4 linked regions of the Homo sapiens genome follow. The protein of the gene in region 2 interacts with the protein of the main gene of each other region in a pairwise test. Each region holds a gene or a part of one and is shown on either strand. Other genes may lie near its edges.

What was found.
Region 1: the proteins of SPMIP6 (region 2) and CDR2L interact in binary tests that used the Homo sapiens proteins (3 or more experiments, as listed by UniProt).
Region 3: the proteins of SPMIP6 (region 2) and KCTD9 interact in binary tests that used the Homo sapiens proteins (3 or more experiments, as listed by UniProt).
Region 4: the proteins of SPMIP6 (region 2) and COL8A1 interact in binary tests that used the Homo sapiens proteins (3 or more experiments, as listed by UniProt).

Annotation. Positions count from the first base shown.
Region 1 is NC_000017.11:74,983,764-74,990,641, reverse strand, and holds the start of CDR2L (cerebellar degeneration-related protein 2-like), read right to left. Parts: upstream 3,011-6,878; 5' UTR 2,599-3,010; coding exon 2,520-2,598; intron 1-2,519.
Region 2 is NC_000009.12:34,394,790-34,402,131, forward strand, and holds the start of SPMIP6 (sperm microtubule inner protein 6), read right to left. Parts: upstream 3,022-7,342; 5' UTR 2,845-3,021; coding exon 2,710-2,844; intron 1,546-2,709; exon of another isoform or gene 1-1,545. Other genes in the region: protein FAM219A, read right to left, coding at 6,175-6,333, 6,877-6,931. UniProt on the Homo sapiens protein: May participate in intramanchette transport and midpiece formation of the sperm tail. May play a potential role in somatic cell proliferation.
Region 3 is NC_000008.11:25,434,427-25,441,452, forward strand, and holds part of KCTD9 (BTB/POZ domain-containing protein KCTD9), read right to left. Parts: intron 6,248-7,026; coding exon 6,151-6,247; intron 5,367-6,150; exon of another isoform or gene 5,239-5,366; coding exon 5,180-5,238; intron 4,982-5,179; coding exon 4,853-4,981; intron 2,060-4,852; coding exon 1,992-2,059; intron 1,905-1,991; coding exon 1,809-1,904; intron 1,087-1,808; coding exon 937-1,086; intron 1-936. UniProt on the Homo sapiens protein: Substrate-specific adapter of a BCR (BTB-CUL3-RBX1) E3 ubiquitin-protein ligase complex, which mediates the ubiquitination of target proteins, leading to their degradation by the proteasome.
Region 4 is NC_000003.12:99,788,593-99,795,618, reverse strand, and holds part of COL8A1 (collagen alpha-1(VIII) chain precursor), read right to left. Parts: intron 4,940-7,026; 5' UTR 4,937-4,939; coding exon 4,609-4,936; intron 1,390-4,608; coding exon 1-1,389. UniProt on the Homo sapiens protein: Macromolecular component of the subendothelium. Major component of the Descemet's membrane (basement membrane) of corneal endothelial cells. Also a component of the endothelia of blood vessels.

The sequences.
Region 1 (6,878 bases), on a different chromosome or scaffold from region 2:
ACAAGCATCGCTTCCCCCTGGAATGCCTTCTTCCCTCCCTCTCCTGGGGAGCCTCCAGCTCAAAAGGGCCTTGGCATAAACCTTTCTAAGTCTCTGCTGTCCCCGTTGCTGGGCCTACAGCTGCAGAACCCCTCACTCTGACGCCATTGTGAGTTTGGTCCTATTTCTGTCTTCTCTAATGTAACGTGGAGTCCTCTGAGGGCAGAGATTATGTCCTCAGGCTCAGCACAGTACCTGGCCCACAGTAAGCAGACATCCAGCTTTTGGCAGGAAGCTCCAGTTTATTCTGTCTCATTTCTGCTTTCCCTCCTGGTTCCTGGCCTTTGGCTACCATTGGAGCTGCCAGGCCAGGCCAACAGCTGCAGACCAGCAGGGCCAGAGAAGCAGAGGCCTGCCGGGCCCATCCCTCCCGGCAGCCCAGAGCACGGCCACCCAGCGCAGCTGGAGTCTCAGATCCTTCTCTCTCTCAAGAAGCTGCACATCTCTGCGCATCTCCCACCTCTATGCCCTGGCTCCTTTCCCATTTCTGGGCCAGGAACAGTGCCAAAGCCTTCATTAGGGGTGCAGGAATTAAGTGAGACAGCAACAATATTGGCATCGGCCTCCCTGAAAACCATCTTCTCAAGAACTCAGTTTCTGATCTTTCTTTCTAAGCCTGGCTCTTCCAGGAAGCCCTCCCCACTGCCCATAATACTGTGCCACCAGCCGGGCGTGGTGGCTCACGCCTGTAATCCCAGCACTTCGGGAGGCCAAGGCGGGTGGATCATCTGAGGTCAGGAGTTTGAGAGCAGCCTGGCCAACATGGTGAAACCCTGTCTCTACTAAAAATACAAAAATTAGCCAGGTGTGGTCCCAGCTACTCAGGAGGCTGAGGCAGGAGAATCACTTGAACCCGGGAGATGGAGGTTGCAGTGAGCTGAGATCGCACCATTACACTCCAACCTGGGTGACAGAGGGAGACTCTGTCTGAAAATAAATAAATAAATAAATAAAAAGAAAAAAGAAAAAAATACTGTGCCACCTACACTTAGTTACAAGCCTGCCTCCTTCACCTGCCAGGGTATACCTTCAGGGTCAGGGCTGTGACTATTCCTAGCTCCCAGGATGGTGTCTGGTACTTAAGGGGAGCCTAATAGGTGTTCATGGAAAAATTTACTGCCCAGGATGGGAGAGGGGGTTGTCACAATGTGTGGATGTGTGTGTGTGTGTGTGTGTGTGTGTGTGTGTGTGTTTGAGAGGAGCTGTATCTCATTTCAGCCAAGGAGGCTGAGGCCAGAGTCCAGGGCACAGACCATGGCAGGGCCTAGTCCAGCATCCCCAGTCCCACCCTGGTCCCCCTGAGGCTATGATTAACCCTTGTCCTCAGCACAAGGACAGAGCCTCATCTGCCAGCCAGTCTTGGCCATGTGGGGAAGTAGGTCAGGGGCTTCAGAATCCGGATAGCTGCTGCACATCAGGGCAAAGCCAGCCCTCTGGAGCCTTGTGGATGGAGACCAGGGTGTGGGCACACCACAGCAGGCCACAATGGCACAAACTGCAGCAGACTTATGTCCACACCCCCCAGCTTGCTGGAGGCCATGGGAAGGTCACTTCTCCCTGGACATGTTTCCTCGCCCCTTCCAGCTCTCACCATCCAAGAAGGAGGCATCTTAGGGGAGGAGAGGATAGAACTGACTCCACTCCAGCAGGCCTCCTCTTCCTTTCTGTCCCAACAGCCCCACCCCCCACTCCCAGTGATGTCATTTCGGCCACCTCATCACCAGCTTCTAACCCCCTTCCAGTCGCCCTTTCTGTCCTCAGATGGCAACTGGGGGCAGCGGAGATGTATCCCTCTTTATTCGGTCTCTCGCCTGGCACACTGGCCGGGATTCCCGAACCTGACCCCCTCCAAACCATGAGCCATTTGCAAGGGGACCGGGCAGGGGAGGGCTAAGCGACTCCTGACTCTCGAAGGCAGATGGGAGACTTGACTTTCTGCTTCTTCACCAGCAAAGACGCGGTACCACTTCTCCCTGAGTAGGAAGCGAGTTAGGGAAACTTTCTAGGAGTCTTAGAGCTCATAATTCCTGTCAGGGACGGGTGCTGCTGGATTTGGCGTGAGATAACTTCCCTCTACACACAAGCCACCCTCCCAGCAAAACATGACGAAGGAGCCGCCTCCCGGCCTCAGAAGACTCCTAGCTAGCGCTCAGGCCCCGTAACAATACCAGGGGCGGCCGAGCAGTTGCTGCCTCCAGGACGGGGTGGGCGAGCTGGATGACGGATGCCCGGTCGTCTGGGAAAATAGGAAGACCGCCCCCCGCCCCCCACTTTTGCAGGTCTCCGCCCGTCCGGTCCGCGTCTTCTCCGGCAGCGCCCCCTCTCTCCACGTCCCGGTTCTCCAGACGCGTCCCTCCTCCGAGTCGGGCGCGCCCGGTCCAGCCCAGCCCCTCCCGGGGTGATAGCGCCCAACAATGGAGAAGCGGACAGGGGTCACCGGGCGCTCCCCGCCTTCCTGTCCCGGTCGCCCCCGCGCTCACCCTGCTCCAGGTCCTGCTGGTCGTACCAGGACTCCTCTTCCTCCGCGGAGAAGTCCTCCATCCCGGCGGCTCTCCGCATGGCCCCGCGGGCGGCGGGCGGGTGCTGCGGCGGCGCAGCTCAGGGCCGGTGCGCGCGGCCCGGGACAATGCGGCTGAGGCGGGCCGGGCCTCCAGCGTCGGGAACTCGGGCTACAGAGCCCGCGCCGCGCCCCCTCGCCATCAACCGCTCGCCGGGAGCCCACGCGGGGCCTGGCGCTTTGCCAGGGTCCGGCCCGGCCGGGGTCCCGCAGAGCCGGGGGCACCGGGCTGCGGCGACACAAAGGGTGGAGTGGCAGGGACGGCGGGTGGGACAGTGGCAAGGAGGATCCGGGCCCGCAGGCGGGTCTGGGGCGCTAGGAGCGCGCGGGTGCCGTGGCGGGCGCCCCCTGCCCGGCTCGGGTCCGCGCTGCTCCTGGCCCGCCCGGCGACAACCGGAGCCGCCGCTGCATCTTGGCGGAGCCCGCCTGCAGCTTGCGGAGCTCGGCTCCGCGGGGTGGGGCCTGCCGCCGCCGACCAATCAGGAGATGTATGCAAAGCTGGAGGCGGGGCCGAGGGCGGGACCCTCCTGGTGTCTTGGTCTGGGAATTGCTTGATCAACCCTTTCGTCCTACTTCCCCCTACGACCTATTCAGTTTATGTCTCATGTCTAAAATTATGCTATTTTAGAAGTTGTCGTCTCTCCTAGATCTCCTGGAAGCAAGAATATTGTTTCTCTTTCACAGCTGGCTACTCACTTCCTAGAACAGGCTGCTCACCAGTCGGGCGCGATGCCTGACTCCTGTAATTCCAGCACCTTGGGAGGCCAAGGCGGGCAGATCGCCTGAGGTCAGGGGTTTCGAGACCAGCCTGGCCAACATGGCGAAACCCCGTCTCCATTAAAAATACAAAAATTAGCTGGGCATGGTGGCGCATGCCTACTCGGGAGGCTGAGGCAGGAGAATCGCTTGAACCCTGGAGGCAGAGGTTGCAGTGAGCCAAGATAGCGCCACTGCACTCCAGCCTGGGCGACAGAGGGAGACTCTGCCTCAAAAAACAAACAAACAAAAAACAAACAACATGCTGGTCATTGATACCTTCCATCGACATTCTTTGAATGAATGAATACTAATTTACAGTTGCCTTTGGGAACTGCGTGTTTAAGTGCTTGTGGCTAGAAACCACAGGCTGAAAGTGGCAAAGTTTGAGGGTGTGTTACCTGCATTCAAGGTTCTGTTTTCCTTTCCTTGGGACCCATATCCTATATCCAATTATACCCATTAAAACTATACACACTTGCATCTGTCCAAGCATTCTTTCCTTAGAAGAGTGTTCGGACTCAAGCATTCACGTAACTCATTTTTATTGGGACCCTAATGTGCTGGTGCCGTTGAGAATCTCTGAATAATGTTGTGATATACCCAACGAATGACTTGTATCCAGAATACAGAAAGAACATCTGCATAGTCATAAGAAAAAGGCACGCAACCCAGTAGAAAAGTGGGTAAAAGATTTGACCAGGTAATTCACAAAAAAGGATACACAAATAACTGAATAAATATGCAACAAGGTACTGAACTTCTTTAGCCATCAGAAAAATGCAAATGAAAACCACAATGAGGTATCACTACCCAATCACCAGAGTGGCTTTAGGGAAAAAAAAAAAAAAAAAAAAGGCCAGGCGTGGTGGTTCATGCCTATAATCCCAGAACTCTGGGGAGGCCGAGGTTGGGAGGATCACTTGAGCCTGGAGTTCAAGAGCAGCCTGGGCAACATAGCAAGATCCTATTTCTATAAAAAAATTTAAAAATAAAAATTAGGTGGGCATAATGACACACGGCTGTAGTCCCAGATACTTTGGGAGGCTGAGGTGGGAGAATTGCTTGAGTCTAGGAGGTTGAGGCTGTAGGGAGCTGTGGTCATGCCACTGCACTCCAGCCTGGGTGACAGAGCAAGATCCTGTCTCAAAAAAAAAAAAAAAAAAAAAAAAAAAAAGACAAAAAATACCTAGTATTGGCAAGAATGTTGAGCAACTGGAACTCTCTCACCCTGCTGGAGGGAATACATAGGACGACAACCACTTTAGAAAACTGCCCGGGCGTGGTGGCTCATGCCTGTAATTCCCAACGCTTTGGAAGGCCAAGGAGGGTGGATCGCTTGAGGTCAGGAGTTCAAGACCAGCCTGGGAAACATGGTGAAACCCTGTCTCTACTAAAAATACAAAATTAGCTGGGCATGGTGGCACATGCCTGTAGTCCTAGCTACTTGGGAGGCTGAGGCAGGAGAATTGCTTGAACCTGGGAGGCGGAAGTTGCAGTGAGCTGAGATTGCGCCACTGCACCCAGCCTGGGCGATAGAGCAAGACTGCGTCTTGGAAAAAAAAAAAAAAAAGACTGCTTGATAACCATGAAAGCTGAATAACGTAAGCTGTTGTAGGTTGTGTTCCCAGGCAGCTGATCCTGAGATGGAGATTAGCATGCAGGAAGTTGATTAGGGATATCAATCATATTGGATTAGAGGGAGAAAAAAGAAAGAAAGTTGACTAGGGAGTGCTCTCATGATCAACACCTGCAGGAAAGGGAGGGAAGCAGGGTTGGTGGGGGAGAAGCTGGGTTGGTATGTAGCCTCTGCAAAAGCCTCCTCTGATCCCTGAAGAACTTTGAATCCAGGGTGACCCTTCAAAGCTATTCCAGGTATCATTGGGGGAGGGGGCCTTTATATCCCCCACCCTTACATATCAACCAGTCATTGAATGACACAGGTCGTTCCTAGGAGGCATGTGTGACCTTGGCCAAATAAGTTCTTTTCAGCTGAGACTAGTTTGCACAGAGCCCTGGCAGCTGGGACTGCCAGCCAGGGGTCCTCCCAGCAGCTAAGGGAATAGGTCCTTTCGTTCTGAAAGAGTTGGGGATACATCACAGCAGCCACTATACATGCATACCCTATAACCCAGAAATTCTATTCCTATATATGTGCAAGAGAAATATGCACATACCTTATCCCAAAGACATGTACAAGAAAGTTCATAGCCACAGTATTCATAAGCGCCCACACTGGAAACAACACAAATGTCCATCAACAGTTGACGAAGAATATGTGGCATGTTCATGTAATGGAATGTTATATAGTACAAATACAATGATCTACTGTCATGGGCTTGGGCTAAAAAAAAAAAGTTGAGTGAAAGATGCCAGACACAAAGAGTAAATACCTGTATTTGTCTCTTATTGCTTCTGTAACAAATGACCCCAAATTTAATGGGCTTGAAACAACACAAATTTATTATTTTATAATTCTGTAGAAGTCTGACAAGGATCACTGGCTAAAGTCAAAGCATTGGTAGAAGCTGTGTTCCTTCTGGAGGTTCCAGGGGAGTATCTGTTTCCTTGTCTTTTGCACCTTCTAGAGGCCACCCCATAGTCCTTGGCTCATGGCCTCTTTGTCAATCTTCAAAGTCAGCAACAGAAGGTGGAGTCTTTTTCACATCCCATCACTCTTACCTTTTCCACCTCCCTCTTATAAAGGACTCTTCTGCTTAAACTGGGCACACTGAATAATACAGCATAATCTCCCTGTCTCAATGTCTTTAACTAAATCACATCTGCAAAGTCCCTTATGTTGGGCAAGGTAACATATTCAGAGATTCTGGGGGTTAGGATGTGGATATCTTTAGTGGTTATGATTCTATCACAGCACTGCATGATTCCATTTTATATAAAGTTCATGGCCAGGTGCAGTGGCTCACGCCTGTAATCCCAGCACTTTGGGAGGCCGAGGCAGGCAGATCACGAGGTCAGGAGATCGAGACCATTCTGGCTAACACGGTGAAACCCCGACTCTACTAAAAAAATAAAAAATAAATTAGCTGGGCGTGGTGGCAGGCACCTGTAGTCCCAGCTACTCAGGAGGCTGAGGCAGGCGAATGGCGTGAACTGGGTAGGTGGAGCTTGCAGTGAGCCGAGATTGCGCCACTGCACTCCAGTCTGGGTGACAGAGCGAGACTCTGTCTCAAAAAATAAAAATAAAAATAAAGTTCATGTGTCTGGAATCCCAGCTACTCGGAAGGGTGAGGCAAGAGGATCACTAGAGGCCATGAGTTTGAGACGAGCCTGGGCATCACAGCCACCCTCTGTCTCTATAAAATATAAATAATAATAAAGTTAAAAACTGGCAAAATGAATCAAGATAGTGTTTGGCTTTGGGAAGGCATGTGGAGAATTCTAAGTGGCTGGGAATCTTTTTCTAAAATTTTTTAAACTTATTTTTGAGATGGGATCCCAGGCTGGGGTGTAGTGTCATAATCATAGTTCACTGTAACCTCAAAGTCCTGGGCTCAAGTGATCC
Region 2 (7,342 bases):
GCATTTGTCCTCAGGACAATCCTGTCTTCTTAACTATACTTACCACTCATCTCCATGAGACTCCAACACAAAATAAAAATTAATTTTTATTCAGAACTTAAGTTGTTTTGAAGCAACAGGGCCCTTCAGAGTTTCTAGACCACCATACTGCCAAAAGCAGCAGCTTTTCCTTCATTCTTTTTTTTTTTTTTTAAGAGACAGGGCCTCGCTCTGTCATCCAGGCTGGAGTAAAGTGGTGTGATCAAGGCTCACTGCAGCCTCAACCTCCTGGGCTCAAGTGATTCTATCTCAGCCTCCCGAGTAGCTGGGACTATGGGCACATGCCACTGCACCTGGCTAATCTTTGTATTTTTGGTAGAGACAGGATTTCACCATGATGCCCAGGCTGGTCTTGAACTCGTAGGCTCAAGCAATCTTCCTGTCTGCTTCAACCTCCCAAAGTGCTTGGATTACTGGCCTGAGACACCATGCCTGGCTTTTCCTTCATTCTTAATACCACTGCTATCTGACTTTCACTCCTCGCCATTCATTGAAGCTGTCTGGCTAAGTTACCAAGAGTTACTACATCCGAGAGATTTCTCTGTCACTAACACTTGACACTGATCTTTGTCTAATAATGCTGTCTTTATTGGTTTATCTTTGATTTTCCTCCTAGTTCTCTGGCAATAATTCTCTGTCTTCTTTTATGGCTTTTTTTCCTTTACCTACCCTTAAATATTTATATTCTCCAAAGTTATGTCCTTGGCCATTTTCTCTCTCTTCTTTGGCAATTTCATCTCTTCCTATGACTTCACCCACCATTTATATGATGATGACTTCAAGATCTCTATCTATAACCCAGACCTCTTTCCTTTGCTTCAGATAAGTATATCTAACTACTTGCCAAACATCTTTTCCTGGATATCCTCAAATATTTTTGTTCTCAAATGAACTCCAAATCTCTAATCTGTTATTCCAAACCTCAGTTGATAGCATTAGCATTCCTCCAGCTGCCACAGCCAAAAACTCAAGGGTCACCCTAATCTCTCACCTTACCATCCATATGGTGACCAAAATCTGTTCATCTACTTTTTAAAATTCCCTTCTATTGAGTATGGAGTCAGGCACTCTCATATTTTGCTTGTGGAAATGTAAATTGTTACAACCCTTACTTATTATGGCAATTTGAGGTATATAGCAAAAGTTTTAAAAATGTGTATATCTTTTCTCCTAACAATTTCATGTCTAGTAATTTATCCTAAGGGAATAATTGGAAATGTGTACAAAGATACATGTATAAGAATGATTATACTAGCAAAATTTTATAAAGTACCTAAATTTTCAATAAGATTCCTTAAATACACCATTTTGTAATAAATTTTATTTATTTTTATAATAAACAATATTTGCTTCCTGAAAGGGCATACGATAATATATTAACAATGGTAATTTTAGGTAGTAGGATTTTAGACCTTTTTTCTTTGTGCTTCTCTGAGTTATCTGCATTTTCTACATTCAGCGTATATTTATTTTGGAGTTAGACAAAATAAATTATTTTAAAAATTCTCTCCTATTCAACGAATTCCTTTTTTCATTGTGACAATCTCCTTATCTCCCACCTACATCCTCCTTCCTCATCTGTTCACCCCTCGCTGGCCTTCCTGCCCTCAACCCCAGCCCCTGCAATTCCCTGACACTGTGGCCAGAGTGGCCTAACTCACAATTGAACCATGACTCTCCCTCCCAGGTTCAAAAACCTGGAGCCTTATGTCCACGCTCCACAACATAGCCAGAGAGGCCCTTCTTGGTCTGCAGACTCCTCTCTCACCCAAGGACTAAACTCTCCTGCTCTAACAGTTTCAGTTTCTGGTAGGTCCCTGCCCACAGGCTGCCTTTTCTCCTGACTGTCTTCTGCTGGAAGCCTCCTCCTCCTGGATCCCTCAGTAGGTCTGCCCTTCAGGTTGGGCAGCGCTCTCCCCTTTCTGGCTCTCCACCTCTGCTGGTGCATGTTCCACATCGGGCAACTCTACTTTGTTCACTTGTTTGCTGTGAGCTCCTCAAAGGCAAGGGCTGGCCCTTCCCTTTTGTATCCTGGGTTGCCTACAGATGAAGATACTCAGCAAAGTTGGATGGTACACACAGATAAATTCTCTTAGGCAGAGTCACAGTTAGACTCACAGATTTCCTCCCACCTGGCCACCAATCTTCAAGCACAGACACAAGTAAACTGTGATACATATAGATAAAGGCATGCATATAGGACAGTTTCCGGCCTATTCCACAGGCAGCCTCAGGGCCTTTGCACTTTGTGATCACTTGTCTGGAACTTTCAGCTCTTCTATTCTTTCAGGTCTTCATGTGGCTAGTTCTATCTCATCTTTCCAGTCTCAGTTTATTGTCACCTTGAGAGAGGGTTTTCCATGACCTAAGTAGCCCTCCCTTTCCATTTCCACTTCCACTACTCTGTTTATTTCCTTTACAGTATTTTTGAAGAATTTATAAAACTCATGTTTATTTCTTATTATCTGCCTGTTCCTACCTCCTACCCTAATGTAATTCCATGAAGGCAGGATTTTGTGCTGTTTTACATACCATTGTAAATTCTGTGCCTAGGTAAATGAATAAAACACACACATACACAAAGCTACAAATCATTACAAACATACATTGCCAGGCATCCAGACTGGCCATACACTCTGGCCTGCCCCTCCCCACCAATCTCCCACTTACCGGAGTCAGAAACTTGTTGGCTTCCCAGGCACACAGGGGTGGGTCCTTATAGACCTCCTTGATGGAGGTGGGAGCCCTGTAGGAGTCACTGTAGGTACTGATAGGGGTCCTGGTCTTACGGGAGAACAGGAACATGGTGTGGTCTTGGAGATGCCGTGGTGGGCTCTACCTGTCAAGGGCTCCTGCTGGACATCAGTGACCACCCTTCCCCTAGACAGGCCACACCTCCAGCCTGGCAGGTGCCCTTAGCTGCTATAATCCCCTCCTGCAGAGGATCTCTCAGCTTCCTTCCCCAACAGCCTTCCTGCTCCCACCCCACACTGATGCCCCCTCCAGGATGGGCACTGCCCATTGTGATATCACCTGGCTCAGCCCCATCCCTGGGAAGGTGAGGAGGTCTAATTCCCTCCCTGCTCCTGACCCCCTCCTGCCTCAAGCCTATCAAAAGAGCCCAATTTCTAAGAGTTCAGAGGGCCTCTGGAGATCTTCTAGGTCAGGTTTCTCACTGTTGAAGAGAAACAGAGGTTCGGAGGGGTTGTGACTCACCCAGGGTCATGCAGCAGGTCAGTGGCATGCCTGGGAACCCACAGGTGGAGGTGGAGTAACATGTGTGCCCAGAGGACCAGTTCTGTCTGCTTCCCAGCCCATCTGCCCCTTGCCCACACCCCAGGGAGGGAGCTGAGGCTGGCTTGTTTGATGCTTTTAATATCATTATTTGTGTTACACGATACACAACCAAGGATGATGGTCAATACTGCAATGAAAATGTTAAAAAAAATATTATACACGGCTCATGTCTTCCACACACCTTCCTGGAAATAAATTAGTGAGCACGGAGAAACCTGGCTGGGTGGCAGCCACAGCTGAGAGAGGAGGGAGTGTTAAGGCAGTATCTACAAGGGGAAGGGTGGCAGGAGGGCAAGCTAAGGCCTAGATTCTTCCCTCCAACCTCCCAGACAGGGAAGGAGGGAGCCACACCCCTCCCTAGACACAGAAGCTGCCACTGCCAGCTTCCTGCCTCTCTCTGCCACACATGCACTGCCTCAGTTGGAAGCCCTTGCCTGCCAGGGAACTAGTATGTCCTGTGGGGGGGGAGATTTTCCCTGGTGTCTCAGGGCCACAGAGATTGAACAATGGGCCCGAGTCACACTGCAAGTCAGCAGCAAAGGCAGCAGTCTAAATGAGCCCCCAAAAAGAGGAGGTACCCATGTTCTAGAAAGGTGAGCCAAGGAGCCCCGGGGTGGTGGTGGTGGTAGTGGGAGGGCTGGCTCTGGGGTCCAGATGATGGGGGCACAGGGGTTGGGGGGATGTTGATCTGGGTGGGAGAGGTGGGTTCAGATGGGGGCCAGTATGGGCCTTGTGGGTCCTGCAGGTACCTTCTCTGTCCTTGCCTCCCTTTGTTTGGCATTTTCTCATCATCTAACTTGGGTCCCTGCACTAGAGGAGGTAGGAATGGGTTGGCGGAGTGGGGGGTGGTGAGCTGTACCCCAATATTTTGGAGCTGGCAGTTCCTGGGTATGATGCAGGGAGAGGTACCACCCTTCCTAAGCCAACAGTCTCACTCCCTCCTCTCATTGCTCCCCATTCCAGCTCCCACCTCCCAGGATTGGTGTCCAGAGAGTGGGCTGTGGGTGAGTCTACTGCATGCCTGCAGCATGTGAGTGGATCCATGGGAGTGGATCCACCAGCACATGTGGGGTGTTAGCATGAGATGATCCACCTGGGCCTGTGCTATAAGGTATGTGGGCACAGGCCTGTGCAGTCTTAGGCTATCTGTGCTTTCATTTTTCTTCACACGGTGGCAGGTCTACACTGCCCAGCCCCAGGGGTGGGCCTTCCTCACCTCTTCCCTCTTGATTTTCAGTCTCAGCTTTCCAGTCCCCTCCCCCAAACCAGCAATAGCAGAAGCAGCTGTATACACATCTTGATCTACAGACACCCTATACAGCCACACACAATAGACAACCCTCCAACACACACACACATTCACAGACAAACACGTAATCCCAAACAGAGCCACATGTGCTCAGACATACACAGTCCTGATAGGAACTGCCCCTTCGCCTTTCTACAGAGACACACAACTCCGCCCCACCCCAACCTTTAGGTATACTGAGACACACAGAGATTGCCCCCTCCCCACCACAGAAATTTCTATGAAGAAACTCTTTCAGGTATAAAAGGATCTTCAACATAATTTCAGCTGCTGTTCATTTTCTAGTTGAGGAAACTGAAGACGAGAGAAAGCAAGTGGCTTGTTGAAGATCACAGGGAGGGGCCAGAGCTACAACCAGAACCCAGGCTTCTGACTCCCGGTCCAAGGCTGTCAGCCCATTGCACTGCTGAGCCGCCTTCTGCACTGTAAACAGACCACACAGGCACTTCCCTACCAGGGACACCCACATCTATGACAGGAATAGACTGAGGAGAGACAGGTCCAACAGAGACACACACCCACCCACCCCCTGACAGCCTCAGAGATACACACACATTCTGCTAAGCACTCCCTACCACATCCAAACAACCACATCCATAGAGCCACTCAGCCCACTGGATTCACCAAAGCTTGCTCCTGGATTCTTACTGGGAAGCAGCCTCCCACGTCTTGGGCTGGGGTGAGGGGAATGGGCCATTGGAGTCCAGCCTTACTCCCTGCTTCCAGGCTGGGATTGAGACCAATGAGCAGAAGCGTGGGTGAGGGTGGGGGCAGGGTGGGGTGGGCTGGTGGCAGACAGATAGATGCATTGGTGAGGGGCCAATTAGGACAGATCACACCACCCAAACCTCAGCCTGTCTGTAAGGCCCACCTTACCCTGCCCCACTCCCAGAGTGCAAGGAAGCGGGTGAATGGGGCAAGAGGAGGAAGAAGGCAGTGATCCGATGGGTGAGGGGCACTACCCGGTTGGGCAGCTTTGCCAGGCTTCCCATCTGAGGAGGGGGAAATGCAAATAGAAACATGGGCCGGTAGGGGGCGTGTGAAGGGGGCTCCGAGGTGCTGGGACCCGTCCCCACTGCCCTGGGCCTTTCTCCCTCCGAGCCCCTTTCCTGGTTAGGCTGAGGCCGGGGCTTGGGAGTTCATGGCTTCGCTGGGGTGGGGCCAAGCCCCTGGCTTTGTGATCCCCCCACTCGTTAATGTTGACCTCCCTGCCGTCCAGTCTTCTCTCTTGGCCAGCCCTGGGAAGCGGGGCAGGGTGCTGGGTGAGGTTCCCCCAGGTAACTGAACAAACGGCCCCCACCCCTCCTCAGCTCCCGGGTGGAGAGAGACCCAGTTTTGGTTTCTCCAGCTCCATGAACACACAGAGGTACACGTCCTACCATAGGAGGAAGCAATGACTGTTATACGAGGTTGGCGGCTGTAGGGGCGCGGGGCCGGGGGCAGGCAGACGAGCTGGGAAGGGGTCGGCCTCTGCCCGTCCTACCCGGCCCTTGGCGGCCCCGCCCCGGCGACCGCAGTGGCCCCGCCCGCTACTGAATGTGGCAGGCGGTGGAGGACGTGGCCTGGCAGCACATGCACGTGGGGTTCACGGACTTGGGGGGGATGAGGTCTAGGTCCTCGTCGTCGGGGATCTCATCTAACCGGTAGCCGTCCTTCAGCAGCTGGATGTTCAAATCTTGGTTGATCTGCTGTAGGCAAAGGGGAGGGAGGTCAGGCCCGAGCGGCAGGGAGGCACCACCCACAGCTCTGCGGCCACTCCAGGCCGTCTGCGCCCCAGTCCAGCCAGTGCCCTGGATATCAGCCCCGCCCTGTCCCGGGTCTGTCTGTACCCCCAGGCCCCGCTCCTGCCTAGGCGCCCTCCTTCGCCTCTGGCCTCTCTTTCTAGTCACCCCTCCCCATTCTATGGTCAACTTCACACCTCTGGTCCTGCTCCTATTCGGGTTTTGCCCCTATCTCAGGCCGGCTACTAGAGGATATCACCTGTATTTTACACCCATTCTATTTAAATGGCCTGCTGCAATCTAAAGCCCCACTCCTAACCCTGGGCTCCATGCACTTGAGGCCAGTAACCACTTCTCTTCCATCCTATCCCAGGCCCACCCTGTGCAGGGCACCACCCAGCCTTGCCCAGCCCTCTTTTTCCTTGTACTTGGGCATTGGCCCCAGCCCTCCCCCGGGATGGCAGTGATCCTGCCCGGTGGTGTCTAGGGTGAGAAGGGGTAGGGGCTCACCTCAGCAGAGGAGTAGCCGGAGGAGGAGTATCTAGACATGTCAAAGTCATCATCGCTGGCCATGGAGGAAAGAGAGGGAAAGTGATACCAAGAAATTACATAGAAAACTCTCTGCAATCCCACCTCCCATTAGGCAGCATCCTATACCTCCCTTACAGTTCCAAATAGCAAAATCTCAATACGAACTGTGCTTGCTGTGCAAATGCAGGATTTTAAAGACAAGTTCCCTAGCCCCACCCTTAAAATCAATTGCTATCCTTAACCTCCTTCTAAATATAGCAGTTACTCCTTTCACCCCCTTCTCATCTTTTTTTTTTTTTTTGTAGACTCAAATCACCCTGACTTGTAGGATATTCCCAAAGTCCAAGTCTAGCCAGGTGTTTTCCAGGGAGTAGGGCTCCTTCCTGAGGGGATGGGGCATTAAGCATCATATTCTGCTGTCCAGAGACAACATCACAGGCCAATT
Region 3 (7,026 bases), on a different chromosome or scaffold from region 2:
TTTTTGACAAACATCTTTTTTTTTTTGTCCTTAACACAAACAAAGATGCCTCTCGACATTTCACTATTTAAAGATTAGGTCCTTCAAACGTTTTTTTGATGTTAGTCTTTTTCCTGTTTTGCTACTAACCTGACCCTTCATGATAAGACAGAATAAAGGACAGTGAAAGTAACTAAAATGCATATTTGGTAGATTTTGTTACTCGCCCTGATACACAGCTTCATGGAAAAATAAGCTGCAGCTAATGAGTAAAACCCAAATTAGAGTAATTCAATAAATGACTACCAAAAGCAAGATGGTATTAATTCAAAAGACATACAGACACGGGCCTTGGTGGTAAGGAACTTAAAGTTGTTAAAAATTAATAGATTTCATTGTTGGTCTGCATATATCCTCTAACTTCAAATAAACACAGATAACTGTTATAAATACATACATATACATATATATAAATATACACATATATGTAGAGAGAGGGAAAACGCCACTGAGATGTTAACTTCCACAAACTGATGCATACCATGTTTATTTCAAAATATCTGTCAAATACTTCTTGAGCAGTAACATTTTCCCATTCCAGAAATGAGGCTGAATAGATTTCAAGGTTCCTTTCAGCTTTACCTTTACAATTAGCTGAAAATATGAGTCCTGATAAATAAAGTACAGTATATTGAGGAGATCAAGAACTAATTCCAAGATTTAATTTCTTATTAGTTACTAAACCTTTCAAGTCTATGTTTAATAAAGGATATCAAACCTGTAAAACCAAATTCATTTCACTTTCAGACCTTTAGTCTTATATCAACATAATAAATTATCTGTTTTCAAGTAAAAGCTCCAGTAAAAGATAGTTATAATTCCTGTCTCAAAGGCTCTTTGAGACTGTTCAATAGACTAAACATTTAATTTTCTCTTGTAGCCTAAAATGATACTTACGTCAAGCACTGATCCAGAGAGATCAGCTCGTTCAAGATTTGCACAGCAAAGATTTGCATGTGCAAGATTACAGCGGCTTAAATTGGCCATTTTGAAGTTAATGTATCGAAGGTCCAAACGAGAAAGATCAGCACCACTGAAGTTCAAACCCTGAAATAAAAAAGCACAAATTGTCACCATAACTAAATCGTCTGTTTGTATTAAATTTAATTACTATAGCTAACCACCAAGTTTTTTTTAGAAGCAATTGGCAGTTCAGTCACTTGGAGTTTATTACAGAACATGATAAAATGGAACTTAGATACATAAAAGAAGTGTCCTTAAATAGGTTCCTCATAAAAGAAACTCTATCAATATATACATTAGAATATAGCCCGGCTATAATTCATTTCTGTGTAGAAGCTTCTAAAGAGGGATCCCTGTTAGTCCTATACCTGCTAATAAGTATTTAAACCTAATTATATTTAAATTATTTTATTAATTCAGTAATTCAAAACAGTTTATTAGGCAAAAATGAGTACTGTGGTCTTTACAATTTGAAATGCTATAGTACACATAAGTAAAGTACCTGCCACTGATCAGCCCATATATTGCAAATGTACAAATACTGACTTTTAAAAAACTGCTGCAATTTCTATGCATTATTCATAAACTGTTGCATGAGGTATAATTAGACAATTTAAAAAGGCTATTATTGCATCTCTTTTTCGTTAACCATTTCAGAACTAAATCAATGCTATGACTCATAATTAAATTAGATCTTGCATGTAAAAGAAAAACAAAGCAAGATAATCCCAAAACACTAGAAGAATGTAAAATTTTATTCATAGATTTGCTGATAGAAATAATTGATGTAAAAGCCTGCTAATTACCTGGCATCGCAGTTCTGACTTGGTTGGAGTTGCTAGCAAAAATCGGACAAATTCCTTTCGGGATATTGGTGAATGATCCTCCGGTGGTTGAGAATTCTTAAAAAAGACATTAAGAAATTAGTGGAGTCTTTTGGGAGATAGCTACAATGAATGTAACACTGGCTAATGTAAAAACAGGCTTACCTTTATTGCCACTTCTAGGTGTTCAATCAATGAGTCAATACCAAAAAATCTTGCTTCTTCTAACACACCTATCAGAACAAAAATAATTCTGAAACAACCTAATTTAGTGAATGTATTACATTCATTTTGAATTTACTAAAATACGATTAGTTCACATAATCTTAACATTTAATTGCCTTTTTAAATGGAGCAGATCTGAACAGGTTTGCCACAAGTATCTTTTACATACTGAATCAGAAAATGATAGAAATGAATAAAAGTTTAAAAAGTACAAAAAAGTCAAAAGTATAATTCAGAAATCTGTCTTATAGGAGAATAAATTTTAAAATATTTGTAAATACTAAAAGAGCTTTCATTTATCATTTACTTTAACTTGGTAAAAAAAAATGTACATCCTTTACATGACTTGGTATATTTACTTATTCTAATCTGTTAATAAACATCATCAGAATGTGTGGGAATACATTTGGGTTCCATTATCTTTCAAATGAGAAGACCTCAATCAGTTGGCTGTTGACTCAGTAAAAAACTACTTAGAACTCTGGAATTACAAAGAAAGTATCAGACATAATCCCTCCCTTCAAACACTTACAAGCTAATAAGGGTAAGTAGATACAGAAAACCAGAAGCAGTTATTTGGGAAGAATAATACAATCTTTTCTGTGAAGACCAAACTCTATGGTCAACAATCCAATTGTAAAACAAACGTCATCCAAGGTACAGCATCGGGCTACCACTCTGGCATACAGGGTCCACATTTCCCCTTCAAGAGGCATCCAAAGATTATGCCATTCCGTTCGGATATATATCCCTGGTGGAAACTCAACATATTATAAAAGAGGTTCTTGTGGGCCACGCTCTCAATTTGCCAAGGTCTAAGTAAAGCAGAACTCTTAGGGAATGCAGCCAGGATACGTTTCCAATTCTAGGTTTAGAATTAAACCTTTAAAACATCCAGAGAAGCCATAGAAATACAAAAGACAGGCCGGGCTCACACCTGTAATCCCAGCACTTTGGGAGGCTGAGGTGGGTAGATCACTTGAGGTCAGGAGTTCGAGACCAGCCTGGCCAACACATGGTGAAACCCTGTCTCTACTAAAAATACAAAAAATTAGCCAGGCGTGGTGGCAGGTGCCTGTAGTCCCAGCTACTCGGGAAGCTGAGGCAGGAGAATGGCGTGAATCCAGGAGGCGGACCTTACAGTGAGCCGAGATCGCGCCACTGCACTCCAGCCTGGGTGACACAGCAAGACTCCATCTCAAAACAAAAAAAATACAAATATTAGCTGGGCATCATGGTGTGTGCCTGTAATCCCATCTACTTGGGAAGTTGAGGCAGGAGAATCACTTGAACCCAGGAGGCATAGGTTGCAGTGAGCAGAGATCACACCATTGCACTCCAGCCTGGGTGACAGAGCGAGACCCTGTCTCAAAAAAAAAAAAAAAAAAAAAAAAAAAAAAAAAATCTGGATTTGAATCCCAGCTCTGCCACTCACTACTTTTTGGTGTTAGTGAAATTACTGTAGATTGTTTTAAAGCATATAATTACTTGGGGCAACCTGTAGGCAATGTAAAGAGTTTGGATGGAAACTGTACTAACTGAAAACAATGCTTTATAAAATGAATCCAGCAGAGAGCTCTGCTTTTTGAACACTTGAACAAATAAATGGTTGAGAAACATGAAAAAGAAAAAACTAGCAAATCTTGGTAATAGCTTGGTTTGCAGATGTGTGACACAGCATGGATAAATATATTTCTGACATTTTCTAGGCAAGTGGGATACAAAATGCTATCAATAATTTGAAGAAAAATTAAAATGGGAGAAATAGAAAGCAACAAGAATTTAGTTATAAAGTTATAGAACTAGCTAAAAGGGTCAAATAATATCTTTTTTTTTTTTTTTTGCAATAGGTACATGTTCAAGGGAATATAAAGTTTGTTATAGCAACACTAAAAGTTAATGGGTGTTTTGTATTTCACTACAGAAACTGTAAGCCAGCAGTCCTCAGGCTGATTCTGATGTGTTCAGCATGTAATGTTTTCAAAACAAAAACATGTCACATAAAATTTTAGATACCCAGGTTTTCTTTAAAAACCAAGGTTCTGGCACTCTACGTCTGACCACTTTGCACATGGCAATGATCTGCTGAAGCTGACAGGCATGTGACCTCAAGATTGCCAACTGCCTACCATTCCTCAAGTACTAACATCACATCAACTTCAGTCACTTGGAGGCCTATTAGCTTCCAAATATGCAACCAGTGTTTTATAAGGGCTTTGTCTACATCACCTCCGTGAATCTTCACAAAAATCTTGTGATGTAGATAGGGTCAAGAGTGCTTTTAACACTCATTTTTCCAATATGACTCAGAGAAATTTCCCCAAGTTAGTCTCCCTAAGTTAGCAAGTTGTAGAATCAAGACTCTAATTGAGAATTATGATTGCAAGGCATGATTTGCCCTCTTGACTACTCTAGTTCTCACATAATGTGGGGAATATCCAGAACTTGGAGCCAAGTTACATTCTTAATTCAATTTTTAAAAAAGGAAACAACAAAATCCTTTAAAGTCACTTGTGATAGAACGTAAATCAATTTAGAATATAAAGTTGATGCGTATGGCTTACATATTTAGCTATATGTACAAAGACTATCTACCTGAAGGACCACCTGCCCGTGCCTAAATCTATTTCTACACCTATATCACTCATATACATGTGAAAACATCTAGTTTAAAAAATAGAAAAAATATATACTTTTACTTTATGGAAATATACTGTTACTGAGTGAAACAAAGTTAAAATCTTAAACTTACAAAAATGTGAGTAGTTACATAATTATATTGAAAGTCTAAATAAACTCACCCAATAAATTAATGCCATCATTTACAATGAGCTGTCCATGACGCAAGTAGTTCAAAATGGGTTCGAAGTACTCAGGACTTCGGTCAATTAAGAAAGCTCCTCTATGATCTTGCTTATTTCCCCAGACACCTGTGTCACCATTATAATAAAGAAAGTCCCCCATAAACAAAAAATAAAGTCAGAAATGTATGAGGAAAAAATTGCTAAATATAAGTTTTTACTCTTAAAAACTGACATAATTAGTAAGTACAGAAGGTCAGGAGTTATAAAGTCAGCACAGATATAAAACAGGTAAGATGAAATGTGAAAACAACGTGTTACACTCACCTTTGTCCTTAAACATGTGGGCCAGCATACTGTCAGGTTCTTTATTCACTAAAGTGCTCCTAAGAATTCAGGGAAAAAAATTGATTTCTCCATTTGTCTTTATAAACAAACATATTTAAGTCAAGAGTATACTCGATCCCAGCTGCTCTCTCAAAAAGATGCATGCTACAACCTGGTAGGAGTAACGCTGGGAAACAAAAACGTGCAGTAAGTTGCCATTTATCAGATCCCTTCTAATAGGGTACTTCCTTTGATTTAAACATTGTTTTAGTTTCCTTTGCTTTAAATACTTGTCTGTCTATCCTGTAAGCAAATTATTACATAATAATATTCTTGATCTTCCAAACTTACATTTTTCTGCCCTTTAATAAAAGCAGTTGTAGTCTCCACAAATTTCAGTAGTGTTAATTTTTACTTATATTGTGTGTTTATTACTCAATATCTAAAAAGCATGTTTTTTTTTTTTTTTTTGAGAAGGAGTCTCACTCTGTCACCCAGGCTGGAGTGCAGTGGCAGGATCTCGGCTCACTGCAAGCTCCGCCTCCCGGGTTCACGCCATTCTCCTGCCTCAGCCTCCCAAGTAGCTGGGACTACAGGCGCCCGCCACTACGCCCGGCTAATTTTTTGTATTTTTAGTAGAGACGGGGTTTCACCATTTTAGCCGGGATGGTCTCGATCTCCTGACCTCGTGATCCGCCCGCCTCGGCCTCCCAAAGTGCTGGGATTACAGGCGTGAGCCACCGCGCCCAGCCAAAAGCATGTTCTAAAACACTGAAGTGATGCCTTTTATGCTTTCTCTGGAGTGAACCATGTTTTTTTCTTCAAAAAAAGTTATAAAAAATGGTTTCAGATCACATAGTATATTTAAGCAGCATTTGAGTATCTTTTAAGGAAATCAGCAAATTGAAGAACAAAGGGTACACAGTGCTTCTTTTGCATTCTCTTTCTAACACACATACACACACACCTACCGTGTAGTTGTAAAGTACCGCCCTCCAACATTTAATGTCAGCCAGTCTGTGTGGAATCCTAACAATCCCTCAGGAGGCTTAGAATCTGTCTGAGGATCTAGAGATGACATGTAGAAAATAATACAAATATTAAGATTGGGGATTCTGGGAAGATGGTAATGGCATAATTTTTTAAACTGAATACACACATAATAAAAGCATACCAGAGCTACTAGGACAGCAATACCCAAACCCACAGACTGCATCTAAAACAACACTAGGTGATAAGGTAGTCCCACCAATACCAACAGCTATAAGAGCAGCATGCTTTCAGCGCCTGTGAAAGAAAAAGCAGAGAGAAGCAACAGGGTATATGATGAACCCATGAATGTTAAAGCCATCCATAGATACTGACTTCATTGCTTAATAAGTCTAGCTGAAAACAACAGATTGAGATCATCCCAAAAGTGGGTGATGCAAGTAGTTTGCAGTAAGATCTTATAGGGCTGAAAATAAACTCTTAAAACCAAATGGCCAAAACTCCCTTCCATGGACAAAGCCCCATACTGATAAGATGCTGGGAAAATAATCCAAGTTGAATGCAACAAAGACAACAGAGACAAAAAAAAAAAAGGACTGCAGATGAAAGTTAAGAGGTTTAATAGACCAGAATATATCAGAAAATGAGTTCTGTGTATTTTAAACACTTCACAAAAACAACAGAAAAGGGAACTCTAGAGCCATGAAATTGGAAAAACTGTCCTGTCAGCCCTCTTTTCAAGTTAAGAAAAACTAATTTCATATAAAAATGAGCAATACAAAAAGACTGATCAAATGTTAATACAAAAGTGTTAAAATAATAATTGTCCTTATAGATAATGAAAACATGCCAGAAAT
Region 4 (7,026 bases), on a different chromosome or scaffold from region 2:
CAGCTGGGGGTCCTGGAGGTCCTGGAGGGCCTGGGGGTCCTGGAAGGCCAGGCTGGCCTTGAGGACCAAGGGCACCAGGCTTCCCTGGGGGGCCATGAAGTCCTGCCACTCCGGGTTTCCCTATACCAGGGAACCCAGGGGGCCCTGGGAGGCCCGGCTCCCCTTTGGGGCCTGGAATCCCAGGTGGTCCAATGGGGCCACTAGGGCCCCCAATCCCTGGGATACCTGGGGGGCCCTGTAAACCCTGATCCCCTGGGATTCCTGGCTCTCCCTTAGGTCCGAGAAGCCCTGGAACACCAGGGAGTCCTGGTACACCTTTTTGCCCAGCTTCCCCCTTGGGCCCTATGGGACCTGGCAAACCCCTCATGCCAGGAGGCCCTACTTCACCAAGGAAACCTGGCTTTCCTGGGAAGCCTTGAAGCCCTGGCTCACCCTTGGGACCTGGTGGCCCCTGTGGCCCTACAATCCCACCTTCTCCTTTGGGTCCAGGAAAACCAATAGCACCTGGAGGGCCCATAGGACCTGGGATTCCAGGCAGGCCTGGCTCTCCTGGAGGACCCCCTATTCCTGGGGCACCTATTGGTCCTTTCTCCCCTCTTGGTCCAAGAGCCCCAGGAACACCTCCCATGCCCCGGTCACCTTTGGGTCCTGGGAAGCCTGGTTTCCCAATCCCTGGAAGGCCTGGGGGTCCTGGTAGCCCTGGCAGTCCTTGCTCCCCTTTGCCACCTGGAAATCCTGGCTGGCCTGGGATCCCATCCTGGCCTGGCTTTCCAATTCCGGGTATCCCAGGAGGTCCTTGAACCCCCGGTACCCCAATAGGGCCTTGTGGCCCAGGTTCTCCTGGAGCCCCTGGCTTTCCCAGGGGGCCCTGGGGCCCAGGGAAGCCTGTCACTCCTGGTTTGCCCACTCCTGGCAGTCCAACAGGGCCGGGAGGGCCGTGCATCCCTGGAGGCCCCTTTACACCTGGCGCACCTGGCATCCCGAAGCCCTTGTCTCCTTTAGGACCCCGAAGGCCTTGAGGTCCTGGTAGTCCTTTGGGTCCTCGATCACCCTTTGGTCCTGGTTGCCCTGGTAACCCTGGCCCACCTGGCTTCCCAATGCCAGGAAGTCCATGAGGCCCTGGAGGTCCTTGTGGTCCTGGGATCCCCATAGGCCCAATTTCCCCTTTCTGTCCAATTTCTCCTTTTGCCCCAGGCATGCCCATGGCTCCTGGCTTCCCTGGCATTCCAGGCATACCTGGCTTTCCAACTCCTGGATATCCCTGTGGCCCTGGTTTTCCTTTAATTCCAGGTATCCCATGACCTGGCAAACCAGGGGGCCCAGGTGGTCCTCTTGGGCCAGGCTCTCCACGGGGACCTTGTTCCCCTCGTAAACTGGCTAATGGTATTTCTACTGGGAAGAGAAGAGAGAGAAGGGGTATGGGGGGAGAGAGAGAGATTGATTAGTAGATTGTCTCTCACATCAATGAAGTACTGACAACCATTATTTAGTTCTGACACATTTGCCTAATACTTATCAAGAGAAAAGACTAGGAATAATATGCTCATCTTCTAGACCTTAAAAATCAGGCCTGGCATGGTGGCTCGTGCCTGTAATCCTACAACTTTGGGAGGCCCAGGCAGATGCATCACCTGAAGTCAGGAGTTCGAGACCAGCTTGGCCAACACAGTGAAACCGCGTCTCTACTAAAAATACAAAAATTAGCCGGGTGTGGTGGCACATGCCTGTAGTCCCAGCTACTTGGGAGGCTGAGGCAGGAGAATCACTTGAACCCAGGAGGCAGAGGTTGCAGTGAGCTGAGATCACACCACTGCACTCCAGCCTGGGTGAAAGAGCGAAACTCCATCTCCAAAAGGAAAAAAATAAATAAATAAGAAAGAAAAATCAAGCTGACAATTTTTTTTTATGTATTTGAGGTATTTTTTTGATAACTGATATGTGAAGCTGCTTGTATCAACATTGGTTAAGTAAAGAAGCTAAAAAGTAATGAAGAAGAAACATTTTTCCAAGTATAAAACTTGGAGATATTATGGTGTGTTTATTATAGTGAATTTGGAAGATTCAAAGATGTATAAAGAAAAATCAAATTTGCCTATAAGCCCACTACTCAGAGATAACCACTTAACATGTATATATATTTTCATCTCATTTGTTCTATCTGTGTGTGTGTGTGTGTGTGTGTATTTTAAACAATATTGGAGTTGTTATCCAAATTATAGTTGTATTTTATTTATGGGGTACAAAGTGATACTATGATTCATGAATACAATGTGGAATAATTAAATCAAGCTAAATATATCTATCACTTCAAATACTTATTTTTATCTCGTGAGAAATTTGAAATTTACTCTTTCAGTGATTTTGAAGTGTGTAATACATTATTATTAACTATACTCGCTATTCTATGCAATAGATATCCAAAAAACAACTTATTTCTCCTGCCTAACTGAGGCTTTAAACCTTTCATCATCATCTCTCCATTCTCTCCCTCCTGCCCCACCCCAAGGCCTCTGGTAACCACCATTCTCCTCTGGGTTTCTATGAGTTCGATTGTTTTAGATTCCACATTTAAGAGAGAATATGCAGGATTTTTCTTCCTGTGCCTGGCAAAGTTTTTAAATATAATAATTTATGGCCAAGATATTTCCTCTTATGCTTAAATACAGTATGATGTGAAATAGGAAAGAATAGAGTTATTTTTTGTGTGGTTCAATAACATCTTTCCACATCTCTCCTTTAGAATTAGTAGATTTGCTTAATTTCTTGAAGGTGCTGTGGGATTTCCTAAGCCTCAAATATTAGTTCATTAATTTAACAAATAATTTCTCATATACAAATCTGGCTTTTAAGTAGGAGAGATGAATAAGATATTTTAGAATGATAAACAGTATGGATGAAGTCGAGAGCTTGACTTAGGAACAAGAAGCTCTGCTTATCTTTCTGGTCTTGGCGTGAGATTGTGACTGGGTCCCTTAAGCTGTCAGCATCTCTGCTTGCCTATCTGTACAGCAAGAATAAGAATAATACAGCCACACTACAAGATTAGAGAATAGATGTGAAAGGTGTCACCGTTTCTCAAATTGTTATTGAAATACACAGCACGTGCTGTTATAATGAACATGCTGTGCCTTTCAGATGAACACAACTCTGGATCTCCCATGCTGCTGGGACTAATGGATAACATGGAGAAATGAAATATATGGTCCCAATATCTTCTTGGCATAATACTTATGTCACTAGTAGCACCTTAATCCTGACCATTGTACTTTTTGCTGAGCTACTGTCAGAGAATAAAATACAAACAGAGAACTCATTTCGAGATATGAGGATCCATCAGAGTAAGTACAAGAAGTGCCAAAGGCAAGGCAAGCCATTCAATAAAGGAAGGAAAAGAAATGTCTGAGATAATCTTCTAAGTATAATACTAGCTCCTAAAGAGAAGAAAGTCAGGAATACTTTCTTTACATGAATAGATATGATTATAGTACTATTCAGGCATGCTATTTCTAACCAGCGAATTGTGTAGTTACTGTATTGAGGAGTTATCTGGGGAAGAGTAGGAGAGATGAATCAGGAATCCCTGGTGTCTAGCACAGAGCCTGGAACACACTCTGTTCTTACTGAGGATTTGTTGAATGAGCAGTTGTAGCAACTCCAATTTCCTATGGTGCTTTAGCATTTACTCAGCACTTTACTTACTATGTATGTCACTGATTCTCTCAACAATCTTATTTTACAAATGAAGAAAAATAGGCTCTGAAAGGTCAAATGACTAGGTCTCTCTCATTTCTGGCATCCAGGCATCTAGGCCTCTAAGTTCCAAATCCAGTAGTTCTCCAGAGGTGGAGCTTCCTGCCATTGTAGGGACTAGTGGGACTGGCTCCACTTCCTCAAAGGTAATTGCTGCTCTGATGCAGCAAGTACTAGGTTTCTGAGAACTCCAGACAAACCAAATGAATTTATCGTCAAGTGTCTGTCACACTGAGGGGCATTTTGTTGGTGCTAAATAAATACGCCAAGAAAGCAACAGGAGAGATTTTCAGGTGTCATCCCTAGATGCAGTCTATACTCTTAGTTTCCTTCTGTTGATCTATTGATTGACATATGTAATTAGAGTAGTATTAAGAACACTTGCACCTGTCTAATACTTAGTTCGCAAAATGCTTTCCTGTGACTTTTCTTTTAACACAGCAGGTCCTTACAACATTGCTCTCTTAGTTCAGAAGACTGACTTGTCACCTTTCTTTTTTTTCACTGCTTTAGCTCCCAGCATCTGGCCCAGAGCCTGACACAAATAGGTGCTCACTATAGATAGTTGCTGAATGTTTGAATAAATAAACAATAAGGGGATAGACTATTTGTGATTTAATATATTTTATTTCATCTGATGCTAGTTAAAATAATAAAGCAAAACATAAATGGTAGTCTTATCTGTGTCTTTAAGGCTTGAAGTTTTCAAGAATATGGTTAGAACACAGTAGGCATTTTAAAAATGCCAGTAACAAATTCTAAAACTAAAGCTTCTAAAATTTATCTTCCCCCTCTGATCCCATAATTTAGAGATTTGGAAAGCTGTTGTTTTATAACAGCCTGGGAGTATGATGTTACCTTTGCCTTTCTTGGGTACGGCTTCCTTGCCCATTCTTGGCGCCGGTTGAATTTCCTTCATATATTGGGGTAGGTGTGGATACTCTTTGCCATACTGCAAGTGGGGCATCTCCTTGCCCATGGCAAGGCCATCTTTGGCCAAAGGCATGTGAGGTACTTGCTGACCCAGGGGCTGGTATTGTGGAATTTGTGGTGGCATCTGAGGAGGAATTTGAGGTGGCAGCGGCTTGATCCCATAGTAGGCACCAGCCTGAATGAGCCTGATGGAACTCAGGGAAATGGTAAGCAGCACTCCCAGCAGCTGCAGAGGGCCAGGCAGCACAGCCATCACCTGTGGGAGGAACCAATGCACCAACTTGGTGAAACTCTGCAAGGCCAAGTGACTTGAGTTTATTTAGAGATAGAATGGGGAAAAAAAAGGGAAACAGTCTTTAACATCAGAACTTCATGATAGAAGTCAAATGAAAAGGAAAATGCTACTTTCTATAGAAAACAAACAAACAAAAAATAGAGAATAGTGGAATCTGTCAAATAAAGGCAATTGGTAGGAACATAGACTATGGGAGAGACTACTGGTTGTCCCCCATATCGATTCTGCCTTTCTTGCCCTGTTTTCCCGTCTTCACCTGGGAATAGAGCAGCCCAGAATGAAGACATTTCAGCCAGGCAGGGCCATTTCAGCCATTCTTGCCAATTGTGTATAGTTGTCATGGGTGTACCTTCCAGGAAGAATCCTAAAAAGGAGTGGATATGTCTTCCCCTTCCTCCTTCCTTCTGGCTGGATTGCTGATATGTTACTGGAAACAGACCACACATCTTGGACCATGAGGCGAATGCAGTGCACAGAGAATGATAAAACGAGCTAGAATAAACCTCAGTCCTGGTTAGGCTTTGTTAATAAGTGCCAAAATTATATTCTAAATGGAAACAGTTGATAATTTATAGGCTTTATGCTACAGTAGAGATTTTTCATCTGCCAGATGAGGGCTGCTTTGATGTAGTCACAAATAAATGTAAATGTAAAGAGCAAACAGGAACAAAGCCTGCAGAAGTCTTCTGAGTTGAAGAGAAAATGCTTCTTCATGTAATAGTATGAAATATTTTAAAAATCACTATCATAATTATGCACCTTTATTTCTTGTATTAAAATACTATGAATTCATTAGTTTAGAAATTGGTTAATTGGACCATTAAAGTCTATCTTTGTCCTTTTGTGAAAGAAAGTTTACAAAGCAAGAGTTGTATGAATAAGAGGGAGATGTTTAACTATTAATAAGAATACGCTGCTTCTAAGCCCATTAATAGCACTCTTTACAAATTAGCAGTAAACAGAATTAATATAAATGGGGCTTATCTGTTTATAAAAACCAGCTTGAAAAGACCTCTGTTTGGAAACGCCCTAGGCTTAAAACCAGACAGCCCAGAGAAGTGCATTGTTGGCAAATGCACACTAGAGGGCAAGTGTGATACACACTTAGGTCTGTTCAATATTCTGCCTGCCCACTCCCTGCCCTCTGTAGTTCTAATGCTGGGCATACACGAACTCCATGCTCACAATGTATAAAGGGACTTAATGAAAATTTGAATCTTAAGGGACATGTCATCATAATGCTGGAGAGAGAGAGAGAGAAGTGGCAAATTTCTCACAATTTTTAATGTAAGTATCTTCTGGAAAACTTTGAAGAAACTTCTGTCTGTAAATAATTCAATTTCCATCTTCTTGAGAGTTGTTTTCTTTGCTTTTGCCTTACTTAATTCTGGATCATAGTTTTCTACTTCTTAGAAAATGTGCGTTGATTTTGCAATATCCTATTCCAGGGTAATGCCAAGAGTGTATACAGGCTACAAAAGGATTGGTTAATAAAACACCTAATAAAATATTTAAAATGAATCCCTATCACAAAATTCAAGCTTTACAATCTTTCTAAATACACTAACAAATCATTTTTTCCCTGGAAAAAATGAAGAAACAGTTGCTAGGCCCATTTTGGATTACTAAGATGAATATAATATGGCTGGTGGGCCTTACCATCAAGGAGTTTGTACTCTTAGTGGGGGTGACAGATGTGTAAACTGTTATTGAGTAGCAAAGGATATCTAGTAAAAAGTAAATTTTCCTCCTACTTCTGTTCTCCAGTATCTAAAATCCCTTATGTTTGAAGCAACAATTTTTCCTCATATTTTTCAGATAGTCTGTGGATATGCACATATCATATACATCCCTTTCAAACATAAATTGCAGTATACTATACACACTTCTATTTTTTGCTTTTTTCACTCAAAGATCAGTACTTATTCCTTGTCTAGTTATGTGCATCTAAACAAATTTCTTTAAGTTCTTCATTTATTAAAATATGACTTGGATGTTCCCTTAAGTCTTTTCTAGCTCTAACATTCAATGTCTGTAAGACAGTTACT